2 separate regions of the Homo sapiens genome follow, and region 2 is linked to region 1. The links come from fine-mapping of genetic effects on gene expression. A gene starts in region 1. The other region holds a variant in brackets. All regions are shown on one strand. Distances are from middle to middle.

Region 1 (2,911 bases):
CTTTATATATTATATACTATAAATTCTGATAGTTTCTATTTTGTGAATCAGTAGCCATTTATAGTAGATGTAAATTCCATTAAAAGAATGCAAGTAAAAATATTCATATGTATCGATAATTCAAATTAGGTATTTTTCTCCCGTTATCATGCACGGATAAGCTGACACACTTGTTTATATGTCTCTATGACATTTTCTAGATAGTTTAGATTTGGCATGTGTTTTAATCTCTCCAGTAGCCACTAAACTGCTCTGAGACAAGTATCTGTATCTTATAATTTTTTTGTTTCAAGGAAAAAAAAAGACAAGTGCATTTGAGTTGGTAATTCCAAGAATGGCAGCAGAAGACAGAGCATCTAAAGCAGGAGGCTTGGACCAAAGTGGTTCTGTTGCCTGTAATCCCAGCACTTTGGGAGGCCAAGGCAGGAGGAACTCTTGAACCTGGAAGTTCAAGACCAGCCTGAGCAACATGGCGAGACGACCCCAAAACCCAATCGTCTCTACAAAAAAATTCAAAAATTAAAATAAATAAATAAAGTCGTTTTGTTAACCATTTCTGGGCCATGATAATCGGATGAAACTAAATCCTGAACTAATTTCCCGGGCGCTCTTGGGCTCTGGGCTAAGAACTCCTGAGAGTATGGTCAGTGGTCTGCTGCTGCCTGGAAGCTCCCGGTAAAGGAATGAAACTTCAGGGCAGACAGCATTCACTTCAGGAATGGTCAAGGAAAGCTAAATTCGATCTCACTAGACAGCAGCCCGTGTAAGGTTTGATCCCCTTGGAAGGCCCTTTCCTCTGCTAGAGCTGAAAGCCCTGTCTCCCTCGTTTTCTTTTGCTACGGGATCCAGAGAAAACACCAAAGGGCACTTACTGAGAAGCTGAAAAAAAAAAAAAAAAAAAGCAAACTGGAAAAGAGAAGACACAACAGCTCTGATGCGAGGGAGGCCTCGGCCCCGCCCCCTCCCGCCCCGGGAGAACCTTGGCCGAGCCTGCAGCGCCCGTAATCCCCACCGCACCTGCTGCGGGAGGGCCCGCGGCAGCTGTCTCGCTGAGGCTAGGGGGCGGGGGGCAAGGGCACGAAACGCAAGGACGTGCGGTGTCACTTTCTGCACGGGCTCTAAACAGATCGCAGCAATCCCGGTAGGTCCGGTACTGAAAGAGAATCACGCAATTTGCGCTGGGGGGCCTCAGACGCGGACCAACCCCCTCTTCGATCTGCCTTCTAAGGCCCGGAAATAAGTCTCAGCCTCGAGAACTAGAGCACTTCGACCAGGGAGTAGAGGAAGCGTTATTGGGCGTGGTACCCTGGGTTAGGAAACCTGGCTGTAGACCCACTCCAAGGACCGCACTCACCGAATTGCTGGGCTGAGGTGGGGGTTGAAAGCCGCTGTCAAGGCGTGACCCGGAAGCAGAAGCTGTCGGGGGCAGGCCCTCTGTTTACCGGACTAGAAGACCAACTAAGATGGGCGCCTGCGCACTGATGAGTGTTCGTCAGCGGGGCGCGCCTGCGCAGACTTGTGCAGCAGCTTTCGCCCTCCAGAGGCCTAGTTAGGGGGTTACTTTCTCCTTTTACTCAGAGGCTTTGCGCGCAGGCTCAGTGCAGCGTTCTCGGCCACAGCCGCAGGGTTCGGGTCTTGGTCCTGCAGCGGGGATAAAAAAGCTCAGGAACCCTGAGTGTTGGGCCGATTCTATATGGTTGCACCTGCGTGGACCAGGCCAGCAGGGGTCCATCCACAATGGTTCAGTTGCTTAGGAGACTAAACTCTTAGTAGGAAGTGTCTTTGACAAAAATACTTACAGCATTATTCATAATGGTGGAACGAATCTATGCTCCTTAGAACCCTCCTGTACATGTCCACCCTCCTTCAAGTAAACCATATCAAAGACAAACTCAACCACCCAAGAGGTGTAGTATTCTAAATGTAGAGGAATAAATGACCTTTATAACTCTTATTAGGGTTAATGAAACTTCCCGCACAAAAACATGATGACACCTCTGAGTGACAGACTTTCTGTGCAAAGCATAAACATTTTGAAGTCAGCAGCACATGGTGGTGGTGCATGGAAGGAGTGAAGCAGCAGCCCATTTAGGCAGACTGCAAGAGTTGTGGTCTGCCCGGTAGCCTGTTTAACCAGAGTGCCCCACACCTACTCCCCAGAGCTTGTTCTAAGCAACCAAATCTAACCAATTAGAGATTTAAAGCAGGCCCAGACAGATCATGTACATCAGTAAGAGGATGGTAAACTGAAAGTTCATGACCTGGTCTGAGGAGTGGGCCTCCTTTGAGCTCCAGACTCAAAGGAATTTTGCCAGGTAGGAATATGCCCTCCACTTCCTGCCACTGCACCATGGTGAGATCGTCCATTTTTCAAAAGAAGCTGAAATACAGATTTTTTTTAAAAAGTGAATTTTTCCAAGTTGCAAATGTTGGCAATGTTTTTATTATTATTATTATTATTATTATTATTATCATCATCATTATTTATTTTTGAGATGTAGTTTCGCTCTTCTCACCCAGGCTGGAGTGCAATGGCGTGATCTCGGCTGGCTGCAACCTCAGCCTTCCGGGTTCAAGTGATTCTCCTGCCTCAGCCTCCTGAGTAACTGAGACTACAGTCACCTGCCACCACACCTGGCTAATTTTTTTTTTGTATTTTTATTAGAGATGGGGTTTCACCATGTTGGCCAGGCTGGTCTCAAACTCCTGACCTCAGGTGATCCACCCTCCTCGGCCTCCCAAAGTGCTGGGATTACAGGCATGAGTCACCACACTGGACCACATCTCTCAAATTTCTTGGTTGGGAAATGCTGAAGTATATAAATTCTGGGAAACCATCAGCATCTTACAAATGTAAGAATGAGCGGAGTCTCCCAGGGAGTGATAAAATAGGCTCTCAATACAGGTTATT
Region 2 (2,911 bases), 120 kb before region 1:
CATGGTTAGGTCCAGGTCCCCATTCGCAGGGACAGTCTATTGCCTGACTGGTGATACCTGGTGCAGACCCAGGCATTCGTCAGCTATTTTTAACCACATTCAGGAATCAGGAGAGCGAACGTGGCTTGAAGATTTCCCTAGTCACTCCATATTCAATTGGCTTCAAAGTCTTAACCATGACTAAAAGAAAACCTTAGAATTTGAGAACATCCTGGGGACAAGAAGAGGATCTTCTAACCCAACATAGAGAAAACTGTTCCCCCAAAATAATAGATTTTTGAGAAGTTGGTGCTTTCTTATGTTTTACTGTCATGAGTGTGAGTTTTACAGGTAGAAAAGTGGCAAGCACTTCACTTCGAAGTTATATTGTGAGAAGAAAGGGGTGCAGGAGAGGAGCAAGAACAGAAGGCCACAGTTAGCAGGGTGGGTTGGAAGTCCTGATTGGTGTGTTTGGCCTCAGGAAAGTTCTTTGGCAGCCTCCACAGACAGGTTTGGTTTTTTAAAGTGCCAAAGAGCCACAAATTTGCATGTTATTTGCGTTCCAGGCTTCACTTCCAGGTATATGGGATGAAATAAATGAATGAACAGTATTCAGACTCCTGGGTAAGGGGTGGACTCAGAAATCCAGACCACACCGAGGATCCAATCACTGGTCCAGCTTGGATCGGGAGACACAGGCACAGACAGAGACAGAGCAAACAGCCACAGAGACAGGGGGACAGAGAGACAAACACCATCAAGTCCTTTTTACCAGGGAGTTTCCAGTCAAAGCAAGAAAGCAAGATCCACAGTTTATTTTAAATAAGTCAACTTTTTAAAAATTAGGAAGAATCATATAGATAGGCAGATAAAGGCAACATTATCCCTGACTTACCTCCACCTTTGCCCCTTCATCCTCTACTTCTAGTTCTGTATGGAACTACATGCCTATGAGTCTGCCTTCTTGATAAGGTATATTGCTTGGTGTTTGCTTAGCTTCCTAAATTAGTTAACTATAAGGTCTACAGACTCTAATACAGACTCTAAGATCCTGAGGACAAGGTCAGCAGGCTATAAAAACCTGAGAACAAGGTGGCTTTTATTTCCATAGTCAAACCATCTTTTCACTCCACCCTTCAGGGCGACTAAGGCCAGTGCTTAAACACGTGCTTGTAAAACACCTAGCCTGAGGGGCTTCCTCAGAGTCTCAGTCTATGAGGGATGCACAATATCACCGGAAATAAAAAGGATGGAGGAAACTATTTAACAGAAAGCTGTGTAGAGAAAATACTTCCACAAGGCCCCTGGTAGAGACTGAGAACCCCCACCCACCCCAAAGAGCATGCTAAATGCTGAGGAAGGTGTTTTTGTTAAGGGTAGAGTGGAGCGTTAGGTTTGAGGCCAGAGATGAACGATTTGGGACCACAAAGGAGGTTGCAGGCTGCCATGAGCAGTCCTCCTTTCTTCACAATATATTTTTTTT[A/T]AATTTTTGTGTTGCCCAGGCTGATCTCGAACTCTTGGGCTCAAGGGATCCTCCCACCTCAGCCTCCCAATGTGCTGGGATTACAGGTGTGAGCCACTATGCCTGGCCCACAATGTTGTCTTTCTAAATAAATGTTGAATAATTACCTCTACCTCATCACTGGCAGGCCAGAAAGAAACAGCTTTTATTCCTGGTTTGAAAAAAAAGCACCAAATCATTTACCTGCCCTTGGTGGCTACATGTCTCAGTCCATTCATGATGCAAAAGGTGAATTACAATACAAATACCATGTGGACTTATATTATTTTCTGATTATAAGGGCTGCAGATGTCCAGATGAGAGATATTAAGATCATGTGATCAGGGAAGGCATCAAAGAGATAGGATTTGCGTACGATTACTCAGTAGGTATTTGTGAAAAGAATAAAAGTAAATTGAATGAGGGGTCTCCAGTGGACTGGACTCTGGACTTCTTGTGTGCCACTCTCCCACACTTTTTCCTTTCCTAGCACTTGTGTTCTGCAAAGGATAAGGCAATCTCCAGAAGTAAGGAATTGATGGCTACTCCTTAGATTGGAATGGAGAAAATTCTGCAGCTAAGGTCTTGTCGCCTTAACTCTAAAACCAAGCCAGTGCTAAGCCAGTGGCCTTAAAAATTTAACTTTGAATCTCTGCCTTGACTTCCTCTTCCCAGCAACATTGTGGCACTTAATACCATTCCAGAATCTTAGAGTTTGATAAGACCCCTGGACACGTGGTCCAACCATTCACATAATTGGAATTATCCCTACCATCTCCCTGACAGGCCAAAGAGACAGCTCACAATAACATTTCCTCGAGGTCCCAGCTCAAAGCCTCCTAGCCACTCTTTTCTCTCCCACAAAGGAAGTATGTGTAAGGTATCCTTTATTTTAACAGGTGACCAGCATAACCCTCTGTCCCACGTTTCCTTTTCCACCTTCAAAGCTGGGAATGGTAGTGTGTGTTCTTAGTAGACAGATGTTAGGAGTCAGTACAGGTAAAACAAGGCCCTAGACTTATAATAAAGGATGCTGGGATGAGCCTTGTCCCTTCCCATGGAATTCCAAGCTGTAGATGCATTGCTCCTGGGCGGGAAAATAAGGTACCCTTCCCAGTAGTTCAGCACGTGGCCTGTTTAACAATAGGGCCTAATAGCCTAACACCTCTTTTTCTGACTCTCTTGGGTATGTGAACTCCCAGGGTGAAAGCATCATATTCCACCTCATGCTAGTCCATCCAGGTGGACCAAACAAAAAGAAACCCCAGGTGTCAGTCCTCTCTCTTACTCCAGCAAGACATATTTAAAAGCTGGAGGGATGGCACAGGACCAGAAACTGAAACATTAAAAACATTGGGGCTCTCAAGTGAACTCTTCCCCCTTTACCCACTAGAGCCACTTAAGGGCCATGTAAAACCAGGCAGTAATGGA

What was found. PIP is the estimated chance that this variant, and not a neighbour inherited with it, causes the effect. A credible set is the group of variants that fine-mapping cannot tell apart.
Region 2: its variant is the best candidate, but not a certain one, in a credible set for the expression of ASB8 in whole blood (INTERVAL, PIP 0.55).

What each region holds. Positions count from the first base shown.
Region 1 is chr12:48,156,105-48,159,015 of GRCh38, forward strand. ASB8 (ankyrin repeat and SOCS box containing 8) reads right to left here and starts at 1,411. Exons shown (of 4, transcript NM_024095.5): 1 at 1,355-1,411. RefSeq lists enhancers at 1,195-1,717, 1,222-1,271, 1,292-1,341, 1,372-1,591.
Region 2 is chr12:48,039,494-48,042,404 of GRCh38, forward strand. No RefSeq gene overlaps it. Among named protein-coding and RNA genes, the nearest start is that of COL2A1, 36 kb to the left of the region's middle. The variant A/T (reference allele first, on the strand shown) is at 1,463.